2 linked regions of the Homo sapiens genome follow. The protein of the gene in region 1 interacts with the protein of each later gene in a biochemical or structural test. Each region holds a gene or a part of one and is shown on either strand. Other genes may lie near its edges. The genes, in order: RPS6KB1 and MXI1.

Region 1 (3,818 bases):
GGTGCACAGTTAAAAGCTGCATGTATTATTGGTCTGTGCTGAGTCACTATAGCAAGAGACCTGTCCTGTGCTTTCTGAACATGTTACCAGTGGAGTTTTCAAAGCCCAAAGATTTGTTATTAGCAGTTTAACACTAATAATGCTGTATGATTATATGGGATCCCATACTTTCCGAAACATTTTCTTTTAAATGATCTATGTCATGGCAGGCCTGTGAAATAGATGTTGAATAGATAATGCCCTTATTTTATAAATGGAGAAATTGAAGCATAAAATCACATAGCTCACTTATCACACAGAAAGTTAATGGTGGAAACACAGGCTTCCTTCCAGGACACTGCTACTTCCTCTGTCCTGTTGCTTAAAAACTGCACGTCTGCCGGCCACAGTGGTGCATGCCTGTAGCCTAAGCTACTCAGGAGGCTGAGGTGGGAGGATCATTTGAGCTAAGGATTATTAATAGAATCTAGCCTTGACAACATAGTTGAGACCCTGTCTGTAAAACAAAATAAAGGTCTTTAGCAGTTAGCCCATTTCACAGCATACATTTCTGATCTCCATGTATAACTAATTTAGGAAATGGATAATATTATTCAAAATTTGTTTCTTATATGCTAATATTTTTCTCTCCCTGCTAATATTTTTCACTTGTCTTCTACTCTTAGCCCCCATTCACTGGGGAGAATAGAAAGAAAACAATTGACAAAATCCTCAAATGTAAACTCAATTTGCCTCCCTACCTCACACAAGAAGCCAGAGATCTGCTTAAAAAGGTAAGGTTCTTAAATGGTCACTGACACTACAAGATTCAATGACTAGGATTTAACTAGATAGAATTTAATGTATATTTTGAATAAAGAGTCATATATAAATATTGAACAAAAAAGTCTTCAATTTTTGAAGGCGAAGTACAGATTTGTTTAAAGACTTTCTTTTCATATTCTTTTTTTAAATTTTTTTTTTTTGAGACAGGGTCTTGCCCTGTCACCCAGGCTAGAGTGCAGTGGTGCGATCTTGGCTCACTGCAACCTCAGTCTCCCAGGTTCAAGCGATTCTTCCGCCTCAGCCTCTCAAGTAGCTGGGATTACAGGCACCCGCCACCACGCCCGGCTAATTTTTGTATTTTTAGTAGAGACAGGGTTTCACCGTGTTGGTCAGTCTGGTCTGGAACTCCTGACCTCAGGTGATCCACCTGCCCTGGCCTCCCAAAGTGCTAAGTGCTGGGATTACAGACCCTTAAACAATATTAAGTAGTAATTAGTAAACTATATTTTCTTTTCTTTTCTTTTCTTTTTTTTCTGAGATGGAGTCTTGCTCTGTCGTCCAGGCTGGAGTGCAATGGCATGATCTTGGCTCTCACTGCAACCTCCACCTCCCAGGTTCAAGTGATTCTCCTGCCTCAGTCTCCCTAGTAGCTGGGATTACAGGTGTTCACCACCACGCCAGGCTAATTTTTGTATTTTTAGTAGAGAAGGGGTTTCACCATGTTGGCCAACCTCGAACTCCCAACCTCAGGTGATCCACCTGCCTCAGCCTCCCAAAGTGCTGGGATTACAGGCATGAGCCACTGTGCCTGGCCAATAAACTATATTTTCTCAAGCCAAAGTAGACAAGCACAGTCTAAAAAGGAAAAAAAAAAATCAGTTTGACTAAGGTTCTTTATCCAAGCTTTTTTTCCTCTTTAAAGCTGCTGAAAAGAAATGCTGCTTCTCGTCTGGGAGCTGGTCCTGGGGACGCTGGAGAAGTTCAAGTAGGGATTGGCATCTTTGGTGTTTTGTGGGGAAGATAATGCTAGTTTTATGTATTTCTGAGGGTTATATGTAGTTGCTTATAAGTTTAGCTTATTTTGTGACTTGTAACTTCAAAAAGGTGATTAATTTATCAATCCAGCAAAGTCTAGTCCCCTCAACTTTTCTTCCTGCTTTTTTTTTCCTAGGCTCATCCATTCTTTAGACACATTAACTGGGAAGAACTTCTGGCTCGAAAGGTGGAGCCCCCCTTTAAACCTCTGTTGGTAAGTATACATGAAAGTGTATAATTGGGTGCAGTGGCTCACGCCTGTAATCCCCAAACTTTAAAGGGCCAAGGTGGGAGGATTGTTTGAGGCCAGGAGTTCAAGACCAGCATGGGCAACATAACAAGACTCCATATCTACAAAACATTTAAAAGTTAGCTGGGTGTGGCGGCTTGTGCCTGTAAGTCCCAGCTACTTGCAAGGCTGAGGCAGGAGGATCGCTTGATATTTTTTTAGAATAAGAAAAATCTCAGAGCAGACAGAAACATTATTTTTATTAGCAGTTCAAAGATCTCTGGTCTATCCTCTCCAGCATCTTTATTTTATTTTATTTTGAGATGGGGTCTCACTCTGTCACCCAGGATGGAGTGCAGCAGCACGATCACAGTTCAATGCAGCCTTGACCTCCCCAGGCTCAGGTGATTCTCCCACCTCAGCTTCCCAAATAGCTACGACTACAGACACGTGTCACCATGCCTAGCTAATTTTTTTGTATTTTTTATAGAAATAGGGTTTTGCCATGTCACCCAGACTGGTCTTGAACTCCTGGGCTCAAGTGATCCACCCACCTCAGCCTCTCAAAGTGCTGGGATTACAGGTGTGAGCTTCTGCACCCAGCCAAGCATCTTTTATTTTTGTACTATCTTGTAAAGAACTAAACCCAGTGGCAATTGACTGTATTAGCTATTTTTAAGTCAGTTACCTAAGACAAATATTTCAGGTAGTTGGGACTTTCCTTTTTTTGGTTTGTTTTATTTTGCTTAATTTAACCATTTTAAATATGATTCTCTGGGAATTTTTTCTTCAAAGTATAGAATATGTGTGCATTCGTTTGCTAGGCTTGCTGCAACAAAGTACCACAAACCGGGTGGCTTAGACAACAGAAATTTATTATCTCATAGATCTGGAGACTAGAAGTTCTAGATCACATTGTTAGAGTTGGTTTCTTTGACTACTGTGAGAAACTGTATGTTCCATGCCTCTCCCCTGGCTTCTGGTGGTTTGCTGGTAATCTTTGTCATTCTTTGGCTTGTAGGTGCATCACCCGGATCTCTGCCTTCATGTTCACATGGTGTTCTACCTGTGTGCATATCTGTGGCCAAATTTCCCCTTTTTATAAGGATACCAGGCATATTGGATTAGGGTTCCTCTCTACTCCAGTAGGACCTCATCTTCACTAATTACATCTGCAATAACCCTTTCCAAATAAGGTCACATTCTGAGGAACTAGAGGTTAGAATTTCAATGTACGAAATTTTTTGGGGGTGGGTAAGGCACACGATTCAACCCATAACAATATGTTTGTGAGTAAATCAGTTAGTGTGTTAGTTATTGTCCTTCTCCCACCTCAGAATCTGAGAAAATACAGTTTCTTTTTCCATTCCTTAGGATGTAGTTGGAGAAGGAGGAGGATGATGATGGTGATTATTTTTTGGTCATGGAGCATAATGTCCCCACTTTAAAAAACAACAAACAATTGTAAGGAAGTTAACTGTCATATACCTACTGCCCAGCTTAAAAAATGATTAGGTCATCTTGTTTAAACATAACTGCCATCCCATCATCACACCTCAGAAGTTGACAGTTTCCTTAGTTGTTTTTTTTTTTTTTTCCTTTTTCTTTTCTTTCTTTTTTTTTTTTTTGGGGGGGGGATAGGGTCTTTCTCTGTTGCCCAGGCTGGAGTGCAGTGGCATGATAGTGGCTCATGGCAGCCTCAACCTCCCAGGCTCAAGGGCTCCTCCCGTATAGCTGGGGCCACAGGGATGCATCACCACATCCAGCTAATTTTTAAATTTTTTCTAGA
Region 2 (3,818 bases), on another chromosome or scaffold:
CAGGCTGGGGTGACCTCCGGCAAACTCCGTGCGACCATCCGCCAGGCCCTCTGTTATCCCCCTTGCAAAGAGAAGCGGTCCACGGGGGCCACTTTATCCCACCCCCTCTCCTCCCCTCCTCCTGCCCGGTCTAGGTCTCTGGGTACGGAAAACGGCGGGCCCTACATCTGCCTCGTTTTATGGGGGGCGCTTCTTCGCGCTGGCGGCGCTCGTCGTTGTTTTCTGCTCGCTGCACACAATGCCCGCGCGTCACGGCAATCCGCGTGTGCACAGCAATAACGCGAGTCGGGGGGCGGGTCGTGCGTGCGCCCGGCTCGGGCACTGCGGGTCGCTCGGCGCGCGCGGGGCTTGTTTTGCTCCAGAGCTCTGCTTTCCGAAACGCTTACATCATTCAGTCGTTGGGGGAGGGAGAGGGATCTGGGCGTTCCGATAGGATTCCAGCATCTACCGGGTCCCTGGTTTCTGGAAGGAAGCAGGGACCCTAGCTTTTTAGTAGTTATTATTGGGGGTGGGGTTGGGTAGTTTGTTGTGTACGTCTTTTTTTTTTTTTTTTTCGGTCACTACTGCAAAAGGGCATCGTTGGCCGACTCAGGTGCACAACCTCCCCGCCTTCATTTCAGCGAGTTCCCCTATAATCACTTGATCTCGGTTTCTCCGCCTTCTCCTCCTCCCCCTCCCAGCTAGAGACACATGGTTTCCACATGGAGACAAACTTCTTTCCTCCGACTGGACTTGACCTAGCTGCGTCGTTCAGCCAATCGGCAGCTCCAGCCTCTTCTGACGTCACGCGTTGCTGGGGCCGGAGGCTGGGTGGGGGGTGGAGCCAGGCTGCAAGCCAGGAAATCTCTGGGAGCTGTAGTGCGGCCAGCTGGTCCAGTCTCTTCTTAAAGGGACGCTCTTCTGTCCGGAGATGAGTGTCGGGCCCCGATTCTCCATTTCGGGTTCGGTGAGACCTTTCTGAGATGCATGGTGGACCCTGGTCACGAGTTAACACGTTCCGTTTTTACTGCTGTTTGCGAAGTACTTACTTGGCAGGAGCTTGCCTTATTTTCCATCGTAGCCAGAACTGCTTTTCGTTCCCTTGTTGAGGTTTCCGTACTGGTAGTGTTCACCAAGTTGTGGCCACATGGCTGAATTACTTCCAGTGGAGAGGTTGAGTTTTCTTGGAGGAGGGGTTCAAATTAAGTCACATTGTTGACTGTCTGCTGTGTGCAAGGCAGGGGGGATTCCCTAGGAAAGGCAGGTACATTCTCCCAAAACTCCAACTGATGTGAATCTCTACGGATCACAAATTGAAGGCCTCCAGAAATATTAATCATGAAGGCTGTGATCCTATTACCACAAATTCAGAAATTATATGTAAATAATCTCTGACATCATCACCTATATGCATTTTGAGTCCAGTGGAAGGGTGGGAATTAAGGACTGACTAATAAGTAGAAAAAGATCTTGGAAAAGGTTAAAACTAAAAGAGAAGAACAGATCCATAAAGGGATGTTATGTGCATAAGAGCCGACTGGCAGGTAAGTGAAACAAGCTGTGAGAGCAGGTAAGGTCTGGAGGAGAGAAATGGGCTTCCTAGTGTCTGGAGGAGGTTGCTTTGGAGGCAACACTTAAGATAGGGAAGGACGATCAGATGAGAGTAGAAAGCCATAAGGCTCCTTGGAGTGGATCACCTGGGTTTGAGGGTGGGGTGCTTTCCTAGGGGCACGGACAGCCCAAGAAACAGCCTGTTCCTCCTGGTAGAGGAAGCTGCTGTTGTGTGGTGTCATTTGGCCCCACCCTGCCTTCTGACTTAATCTCCTCTTCCTTGCCCTGAAACCTCTGTGTCTGTACAGCAGATCCACCAGCAAGCAGGCTTCACAGTCGAACCTCTGTGCTCGACTTAGACTCTTCCACTGTCTAGAATGCTTTCATTCTCTTACTCCCCTAGGGATATCTGTATCCTACCTTCTCTTCAAGACTTAGATCAGTTTCCACCTCCTCCAGGAAGCTTCCCCTAGCTATTTCAGCCCATTTGGCTCTATTTGTTAAGTCATTGTACTTGAGAGAATGAAACCTTTGCAGTCACATGGAGCAGGGCCCAGCTTGCTACTCTACTGCTTACTGGCTTTGTGACTTTGGACACAACTTACTTAGCCTGAGGTTCCATTTCCTTTTTGCAAAATGGGGATAACAATAGTATGACCCTCATATCATTGTCAAACAACTCAATGAGGCACTGCACTTAAATATTTAACGTACCTGAGATATAATAGGTGCTCAATAAATAGCAACTTCTCTGAGCTTTGATAATCAGTACCATGCACTTCTCTACTTGCTTCCTGTGTGTTAGCTTTACCTTTACAAGGAGTTTATTAGTAACTTAAGAGAAAAGATCACTTACAGTATTCAATGCATGTTACCCATTGCATATAGCACACCACTGGGCATACAGTAGTAGATCCTTAATATAAATGTTTTGATTGGTTAGATTTGTCATTTACTGCTAGCTATGGCACGAGGATCAGGTTTGGAGGCCAGGGGACACGTGACAGCCTTTCCGAAGATTTGGAGACGAGTCAGAAATACTGATCTCCAACTCCCTTGGGTGGTGAGACCAATCCCTGCAAGAAGATGATAGTTCAGACCTGAAGAGCTGAGACTGCATCCTGTGAACAGCTGTGACCCTGAGAAACAAATAAGAAAGAAGGAGACTAGAGTGACTTCTGCTGAAATCGAGGGCTTTGATGGCAACTAATGTTCAAGCTGGTCACGTTTTTGCATGGCAGCAATCTTATGAATTCATACATTCTTCAAATGTACATTGAATGTCTACTATGTGCAGATGCTTCTTTCTGAAAACTCTGTAGGTTGAAGTATGGTGGGGGTGGAGTAGGGTATTTGTCTTTAGTGGAGTTATGTGAAGAGCATTCTTAAATCAGGCCCTATTTCCTCTGCATCCCAAATTATGTTCCCCAGATTCAACTTATTTTTTCCAGTTTTAAATATGATCTCTGCTGACTGGTAAATACCAGAAGAAGGCTTTTTTGAGGATATTGTTACGGCTTTCAGAATCACGGAGCTCCCAAGGACTGTGTGTCCTGGAAAGGAGATCCAGGGAAAGGGGACAGGGCCTTGGAAGTTAGAGAAGTTGAATTGAGCCATTCCTGGTTTGGGAGCAAAAAGGAGGCTCCATTAGCTACCAAGGCAAAACAGTAGCTGCTCATCCATCTCTCATCTCTGATGGAAACAGTCTCCCACTGACACATCCAGAAATGGGGATTCATCTGGAGATGCCTGGGCAAAAGTCTAGAGGTGAAACTGAGGAAAATGAAGAGGGTGCTGGCGTGCAGCAGCAGCAACTAATTGTATGGCATAATATCAATAATGGCTACAATTTATTGAACACTGACTATATTCCAAGTATGGGGCTATGCATTCATTATCTCCCCTGATCTTCACAACAACCTTCTGATGGATGCAATTTTATTACCCTCTTTTACGGAGGAGGGAACTGAGGAGCAGGGATGCCAGGTAATTTGCCCAAAGGATATATAGCTAGTAAGTCGCGGAGCTGAGTTTTGAACTTAGGCCTCTGATTCCAGAGCCTGTGCTCTTAACCATATACACATGTACTCATTTCACAGCCAAGGAATGAAGTCCAGAGAAGTGAAATGACTTACTCAAGGTCACCCAGGAACCTGAAGCAGAGCTGGTATTTGAAACACCTTGTTTATTGTCCAAGGTCTTCCTGCACACACCTTGCTTAGAAAAGGTTTCGAAGTGAGGCTGGAGTCAGAAGAGCCAACCAGAGAGGCTTTTTTTCTTTTTTTGTC

Evidence for each region.
Region 2: of the proteins of RPS6KB1 (region 1) and MXI1, one has a biochemical effect on the other in vitro, tested with the Homo sapiens proteins (one study listed by BioGRID).

The regions. Positions count from the first base shown.
Region 1 is NC_000017.11:59,934,528-59,938,345, forward strand, and holds part of RPS6KB1 (ribosomal protein S6 kinase beta-1), read left to right. Parts: exon of another isoform or gene 1-1; intron 2-665; coding exon 666-773; intron 774-1,687; coding exon 1,688-1,750; intron 1,751-1,936; coding exon 1,937-2,014; intron 2,015-3,050; coding exon of another isoform or gene 3,051-3,099; exon of another isoform or gene 3,100-3,247; intron 3,248-3,818. UniProt on the Homo sapiens protein: Serine/threonine-protein kinase that acts downstream of mTOR signaling in response to growth factors and nutrients to promote cell proliferation, cell growth and cell cycle progression.
Region 2 is NC_000010.11:110,210,537-110,214,354, forward strand, and holds part of MXI1 (max-interacting protein 1), read left to right. Parts: intron 1-2,331; exon of another isoform or gene 2,332-3,818. UniProt on the Homo sapiens protein: Transcriptional repressor. MXI1 binds with MAX to form a sequence-specific DNA-binding protein complex which recognizes the core sequence 5'-CAC[GA]TG-3'. MXI1 thus antagonizes MYC transcriptional activity by competing for MAX.